Linked DNA regions of Homo sapiens. The protein of the gene in region 2 purifies or fractionates together with the protein of the main gene of each other region. This does not show direct contact. Each region holds a gene or a part of one and is shown on either strand. Other genes may lie near its edges. The genes, in order: NGLY1 and CEACAM8.

What was found.
Region 1: the proteins of CEACAM8 (region 2) and NGLY1 purify together in Homo sapiens (co-immunoprecipitation; 2 studies listed by BioGRID and IntAct, with this or other methods). This does not show direct contact.

The regions. Positions count from the first base shown.
Region 1 is NC_000003.12:25,776,526-25,780,443, forward strand, and holds part of NGLY1 (peptide-N(4)-(N-acetyl-beta-glucosaminyl)asparagine amidase), read right to left. Parts: intron 2,164-3,918; coding exon 2,049-2,163; intron 1-2,048. UniProt on the Homo sapiens protein: Specifically deglycosylates the denatured form of N-linked glycoproteins in the cytoplasm and assists their proteasome-mediated degradation. Cleaves the beta-aspartyl-glucosamine (GlcNAc) of the glycan and the amide side chain of Asn, converting Asn to Asp.
Region 2 is NC_000019.10:42,592,981-42,596,898, forward strand, and holds the start of CEACAM8 (cell adhesion molecule CEACAM8 precursor), read right to left. Parts: upstream 1,945-3,918; 5' UTR 1,849-1,944; coding exon 1,785-1,848; intron 921-1,784; coding exon 561-920; intron 1-560. UniProt on the Homo sapiens protein: Cell surface glycoprotein that plays a role in cell adhesion in a calcium-independent manner. Mediates heterophilic cell adhesion with other carcinoembryonic antigen-related cell adhesion molecules, such as CEACAM6.

The DNA.
Region 1 (3,918 bases), on a different chromosome or scaffold from region 2:
CTCTCCTTTGGGGTTGTAAACTCATATAGCCAACTGCTTACTTGGCTTCTCTACTTGAATATTTAACAGCAAATTGGTCACAATTGTCCAAAGACAGGTGTTAGTTTCTCCCCTAAAACCTGCTACTCTCCAAGGCTTCTCTATCTCAATTAATGATACTCCCATCCAATTAGTTGCTTAAACCAAAACATAGGTAAGTCCCCGATTCCTTCCTTTCCCTTATATCTTACATCTAAATCACCAGTAAGTCCTGTTGATTCTGTCACAAAAAGAAATCCTGGATCCATCTACTTCTCTCCATCTCCACCATCAGTACTTAATTCAACAAATCTTTATTGAGTACCTAACATCTGTAATGCACCAGCATTATTCCAGGAGCTAGCAACACAGGGAACAGAAATGACAAAAAACCCTGCCTTCATGGACTTTATACAAACCACTACCATTTCTTATTTAGACTAATGTAATAAGCTTTCTAACCGGTCTCCCTGCTTCATCCCTTGTCCCCATCCCACCACCTCCAGGAATTCTCTTTACAGCAAGCTAGAATAATCTTCAAAAATATTTTTCCCTACTTAAAACTTTCCAGGCTGGGCACGGCGGCTCACGCCTGTAATCCCAATACTTTGGGAGGCCAAGGCGGGCGGATCGCCTGAGGTCAAGAGTTCGAGACCAACCTGACCAACATGGAGAAATCCCATCTCTACTAAAAATACAAAATTAGCCAGGCGTGCTGTCGTATGCCTTTAATCCCAGCTACTCAGGAGGCTGAGGCAGGAGAATCGCTTGAATCCAGGAGGCGAAGGTTGTGGTAAGCTGAGATTGCATCACCGCACTCCAGCCTGGGCAACAAGAGCGAAACTCCATCTCAAAAAAAAAAAAAAAAAAAAAAATTCCCAGTGGCTTCTCATCTCACTTAAAATAAAGTCTAAGTCTTTTGCCACATTCCTCAAGACCCCATGTGTCCTGGTCTCTGCCTCCCTATGCAGCTTATTTCTGTTTCACGGTTACTTCTGCTGGAAATCCTTTACACACATTAATCCTTCTGCCTGAAACACTCTTACCTGAGAGTTTCAGGTACCTGAGATGTTTCAAGTCACAGCTCAAATGTCATCTCCTCAGAGAGGACTTCCCTGACCACTGCCTGCCATGCAAAGTACTTTTTATTCTATTACCTGGTCTTATTTTCTTCTTTGCACTCATCTTGTTTTCACATCTACTGGCTGTTTAACCTACTAGAATGTAAGCTCTATGTGAGGTGGGATTATATCTACTACTTTGTTCACTACTGTTACTTCAGGGCCTGAAATGGAACCTGGGGAGGGAAGCAGAGAGGCATGAAGAAAAGTGAATCTTACATAGCAGCTCAGCATATCTCTTTAACAACTTCTACAATTGCCTATTCTGACGACCACTGACTATTGAGTCTCTGTAACTTGTTCAAGTTCTTTCAATGCTCTACAAAGGAGAACTAGTTAAGGATATAAACATAAAGAAAATTCAGAATCTTAATAACTACTTTCGATGTGTCATAAAATTAAACTACACCACAAGATTCCAAAAGATAACACCAAAATATTCATTTGAAGTAAAAACAAAAAAAAATACTGAGACTCCTCTCCTGTCACAGAAGAAACCCCTTCTGTGTGGCAGCTCAACTCAGTTTTTCTGTTTACTTCAGACTCTTTTCATTTCCTACTACAGACAGGTAGCTAGACTCTATTAGTATTCATGTGTGCTCACAAATCAGGTTTTAGCTAAAAGCCTAAAGTGAACCACATTTGGTCCTTGGGTTGCATGTATGACCCTTATTTTAAAGAACTGAGACTCGTAAGAATTTCTCTGTGGAGCGTTGTTACATTTTACTGAAATTTTAAACTATACTTGTTGTGATTTTTAAATGTCCAATCAATGAAGAAATAACTACTTCTACTGATTCCCAAAATGATAAATTAAAAAACATTATCTTATTCAAACAATTATTCACCAACATGATAATGGCTGCTTTGTGCATGAAGAGGGGAGAGGAAATCCTTGAACATACTTACCTCTTCAAAGCCCATTTCAAATAAACATTCAACAGCTCCTCTGACAGGCAAGAGTCTAGTAGAAAAGGCTGTGTTTCCAATCCGGATGGATCTATATTTTTCATCATTAGGGTTTCTGACAAAAAACAAAAGTTTGATTATATATAAAAAAAACCAGGTCATAGTTCTTCAAAGACTTTACTTTCAACAAACATGACCTAGGTATACCTTTATAGTCACCTGATTTTCTTTCTTCCCTAAACCAATGGTTGTTTTTACTATAAGTAAAAACAGTAAATTACATTCTGTGCTGTTAAGGTACATTTTTTTTTTTTGAGATGGGGGGGGTCTCGCTTCAGTTTAAGATACATTCTTTTTTTTTTTTTTTTTTTTTTTTTTTGAGAGAGGGGTCTTGCTCTGTTTCCCAAGCTGGAGTGCAGTGGCGTGACCTCGGCTCACTACAGCCTCCACCTCCCAGGTTCAAGCAATTCTCCCACCTCAGCCTCCCAAGTAGCTAGGATTACAGGGGTGCACCACCACTCCTGGCTAATTTTGCATTTTTTAAGTAGAGACAGGGTTTCACCATGTCGACCAGGCTGGTCTCGAACTCTCGACCTCAGGTGATCCACCCGCCTCAGCCTCCCAAAGTGCTGGGGATTACAGGCGTGAGCCACCGCACCTGGCCCAAGACATATTCTTGACACAGACAGTATGGCAATAAAAGGAAGACATAAATTTCTTTTACCATAATTAAGATTTTGAATAGTACACTTGGGACAAGTAACCAGCACATGAAAAGTTTTGGTTTGAGATTTTTAATTACTTTGATAAATCAGAATTGTTTAAAAAAAATTAAAAGAATGTAAGGTTAAGCTAATCATAGTATTATATTCAAAAGACCCTCAGAACATAGTTTAGGATGATAAGTTTCATACCTGACACCAACTGCCTTAAAGTGATAGTGACTTCTTTAAGTACTATGTTAAGGAGGATTCTGAGGCAGTATCTGGGATCCATAGGAAGATGTACTTCCATAAGAAGCCACCTGCCCTGGGGTATGATATGGTGAGTAGGCAAATGCTAGCAAATGACTTATCAACTTTGTCCTATCTACACATGTTCTCTAGGTATTCTGACGTAAAAACAAAACCAAAAACCAAATATTTTAATTTTATAAGTTTTAACAAATTTTGCATTTGTTTTTCACCAGTCAATTGCCTATTGGCCAAAGTGTCATAAATACTAAATGAATGTTTTTAAACTTTTCCCTAATTTCAAAAATCATGTTTATTACAGAATATTCAGAGACAAATGCTCTATTTTTTTTGCTATTCAAAATGTCCACAGATTGGTGCTAATCTACAAATTATTTGTTACCCATACACAAGTAGTACAGAAATTTTTTCTTTGTTTGTTTACAAGTGCATAAAAATGAAGCAAGAAGTAGAGAAATTGAATGTTCGGTATACAGCAATTTGATATTGCCATGAAATTTTCAGTGTATTTTACAAAAGTTATAGGTCCATAAGGGATTGGAAATTAAAACAAAAACATTGTTCTTTACTATATGTAATTTGAGAATCACAGATGGTTGTGAAATACAAAGAAAATTTTATTCTCAACTCTTTATTCTGTGTATTAGATTAGGGTTTCTCAGTCTCAGCACCATTAACATGTGGGGCCTTTTCTCAGTGGAGTTTCCTTGTGCACTGCAGAACATTCGCATTCCTGGCTTCCATGCTACACTGTCTCACAAGTGAGCCTCTCTTTCTTATCACTTAAGAAAACTGAACTATAAAATAATCCTACATTTATCAAAGCTAGTTTTCGATAAATGGGGCATCTTTTCCTGACACTCAATGTATTTCACAGGGTGATAAACATGTCAGTA
Region 2 (3,918 bases):
GAGGCTCTGGGGTCTAAGCCCTGGCTGGTGAGCAGCTCCAGGAGCCACAGCCCTTGGATGGCTGGTAAATCTTTGCTCCTAGTTGGCCCTGCCCAGGAGGCTACAACCCAGTGCTGGCACAGGTTTCCCAGGGTTACCTGGAGTCAGGATCCTGGGACAGGGGTCTGGAGCAGGGGCTTCCAGGGATGAACTTCTCTGTGAGGATCCCAGGATCCCAGGGAGCCCCTCAGGTCAGGCCCTGACCCAGTTCTTTAGAGTTTTTCTCAGGGTCAGGTCCATGGGGAGGGCACGGGGTGCCTGGCTGAGTCTGATCTCCTTCTGCTGAGTCCCCCCATCAGACTGTCATTCCTCTGCCGTGAGTGTCTGCAGGGTCTGGATGCAGGAAAGGAATTCTGGTCTGTGGAAGTCTGTCTCCCCTGAGTGTGTCCTGCACTAAATGTCCAAACCCTAAAGTGGGATGTAATGCAGAGAGGGACATGGGCACAGCCCAGGCCTAACAATCCTGTGTGTGGGAAGTAGAACTGACCCCCAACACCCAGAGGTCATGGGGAATCACTCACGATGTACGCTGAACTGGCCAGTTACTTCTTCACTCATAAGATTTAGCTTTATGACTTGTAGGGTGTAGGATCCTGTGTCATTTCTGGTGACGTTCCGCATCAGCAGGGATGCATTGGGGTATATTGTCTCTCGATTGCTGTATGCAGGCCCTGGGGTAATCTGTTGATTTGATATTACATATCCTATAATTCGACGGTTGGCATCCACTGTTTCCCCTTTGTACCAGTTGTAGCCACGAGGGTCCTGGGGCAGATTGTGGACAAGTAGAAGAACCTCCTTCCCCTCTGCAGCATTGGATGGCACAGCTTCAATAGTGAGCTGAGCAGTGGTGGGCGGGTTCCAGAAGGTGAAAAGTGAGGCTAGGAGGGGGAGAGAGCATCAAGCAATATTGCAACATATGTATTGGAGTAGAAAAATGGGGACATCAGCTTTGGAGTTTGTGTGTTTTTATGTGTGTGTATGTGTGTGTGTCCTACTGAGTCAATGTCAGCAGCACAGCCCCCATTTCTTCAACACCTCTGACCTTGGCATTTCCCTGGTGGAATCCTCTTCTTCAGGGTTCTGCACGGCTCCCTCCACACTGCCCTCAGATCCTGCTCACATCAGGGCATCCTTGGGAGACCCTTTCTCTGACACCTCCTCTAGAGACACTGGGTCTTCCCTTTCTGACCTTTCCCTGCTGTGTTCCTTCCAGGGCTCCTGTCAGCGCCTGACCTCACATTCTAGATCTCTTTGTCTGTCTTCCTCCCCAGGAGAGTGTGAGCTCTGTGAGGGCAGGGACTTGTGTGGTGTTGGCTGCACCCCAGTGCCTGGGACAGGCTTCAGACTCCTGTGGATGAGTTCCTGAGCATTCCCTGGGCCCTCTGCTTCCTGAGGCTTATTTGCCAATGTCTGACATTGTTGGCTGAGGACAATGTTTCATACCCTGGTTATGCTTTATTTGAAGTGTCATCTGGTATGGTTATTATTATCATTTTTCAAAATGTAGTGGCCAGTGATGATTAACCAGGAATATGGAACACTTGAGATGTTCCTGCCTCTTACCAATTCCAGTTCAATGTGATTTTCCTGTTGTGACCCCTTCCCCTCTCTTGTGTCCTCTCCTCTATTAAGGCTCCAACAGAAGTCCTCTGTCCCCTCTCAGAGCCCCGTCCTCCCCAGGAGACCCCAGCCAGTCACTGTGTTTCCTCCTCCTGTCCTTTCCCAGGAAGTCCTCTCCTCACCTGTGAGCAGGAGCCCCTGCCAGGGGATGCGCCATCTGCAGGAAGGGGCTGAGATGGGCCCCATGGTCTCTGCTGCCTGCGTGTTCTCCTCTGTGGAGATGAGCCTGGGATCCAGAAACTTTCTGAGCACGGCTGTCAGCTGTGCTGTCCTTCCTCCTTTTGTGCTGAGCCTCTTCCCGGGGCAGGAGCACTTCTCAGGCTCATGGGCGGGGTCTGTGCCCAGGACACCTCTCTGTCCCCTCCCCTCTCAGTCCTGCCTCCCTGTCCCTCCTTTCCCTTTATTTTCTGTCTGTGTTTCAGGCCCCTGGGAATTGCTGAGGTCTCTGACTCCTTCAGCAGTGATTCTCTCACCCAACCTCTGCACACACTATGCAGACACACACACACAGAGACACACACATACACAAAGAGACACACACAGTCACACATACACCCTGGAGACTGGGTGAGCACAGCCCTGTGCCCTCAGCATCCTGCAGCCTATGTCTCCAGGTCGGGGTGCACAGTCGCTCCCCCTGCCCTCTCCCATCCCCATCTGGCTCTTCCCTTCAGATCAGGAGGTCAGCGCTCCGCAAGGACCCTGTCACAGGGACACCACCACTGAGCTTTGGGGAGGTGTGTGCTCACTGGTGAGAGGGATCCTCCCCCTCTCTCATTGTGTCAAGCTTGGTTGCAGCTTCCAAGGATGGACATTCAATGCCCTGGATATCCCAGAGGGGACTGTCCTTACTGGTGGTGTGCAGGGCAAATAATCTCTTATGCCTCCTGAGAGAGAGGGCTGTTCTGGTTGGTCAGTGGGGGCTGTGGGCCTAGTGGTCATCAGGGACAGGTATCAGCCATTCTCTTGCTCTTTGGGTTCTGGCAGCTGAGCTGGGGCTCGGGCCTTCCATGTTCTCTCTGACCATCTTGGGTGTCCTCTGTTTTCGCCCGGCTGACTGTCCTGTGGTCACCCCACCTTCCCTATGGTTGGTGCAGCAGGAAGTGGGGAGTTGCCCAGGGGCCCCACAAGACAGTGCTCTCTGAGATCCAGGAGAGGGAGCCTGGGACAGAGCAGGGGCTCAGAGCTGGAGAGACTCATCCCAACTTACTCTGCAGCCAGGATGGGCTCAGCCCTCCCCATGCTGATATCCCCTGGGGTCTGTCCTAAGGGTTTGGACCTGGTCAGGCCCCTCTGTGTAGAGAAAGGATGGGCAGCGGCCGGGGAGCCCGTCTGGGGGGACGTTGCTCACACCTGAGAGGGCAGGTAGGGGTGGGCCATGTTCTGGGAACAAAGGGAGCTCATTCCTTGCCCCCCAGCTTGTGTACATGAGAGAGCGCTGTCCTCCCTCCTGGCTTCACGAAGGACAGCAGGGGGCAGGTGGCTACATCCCAGACAGTGCCTGGGCGTGACCATCACATACTCTCCGAGCCTCCTGGGGTGCAGAGGGAAGGTCATAGGGTGCCTGGCTGATTCCCCAGAGGCACTGTGGGCCCTCAGGCAGCTGTGGTTCTGTCAGCGCTGGGCTCAGCCTGCCATGCCGTAGAGAACAGGACACACGGAGCAGGGGCGGGTATTTAGGGAGCAGTCACAGAAAGAGTTGATGAGGATGGAGGGAGGTCACGAGGGGAAAGCGCCCAGTGTGGCATCCCGTGCACCAGCGCTGCCCTGGGAGATGCCTTAACTAGGCCCAGGGAAGGATTGGGTGTGTGGGGCAGGAGCTGCCTGCAGAGGGGGCGGCCTCATGTTGCCGGCTGCCTGGCTGCAGGGAGGAGCTGACAGAGTCCGTATGGGGAGCTTGGAGGGTAAGGAGGACGTGGGCCGAGGTGCCCTGGTGAGGGTGGACCCTGCTGGGCTGTGGGTTCCGCTGAGGGAGGTCAGCAGCCCCTGGGAAGGCTCCAGGCTGGAGGGACTCTGTCGCCCTCTGGTGGACTGGAAGGGAAGTGTGGGTGGCCGCAGTCCCAGGTCCGGCTGCGTGTTTTATTCCACATGGATCTGCACATTTCACACGAGGTCACCCACATGTTATGTCGAGCTCCATCACATTCCACATCCGTGTTTTTCTCTGTGGCTGATTCTCTGGTGTGATCTCTGAGCCTGTGTTAGTCCTCCTCACAATGGTCACAGCTGTGTGTGGAGATCTAATGGGGTGTGTGT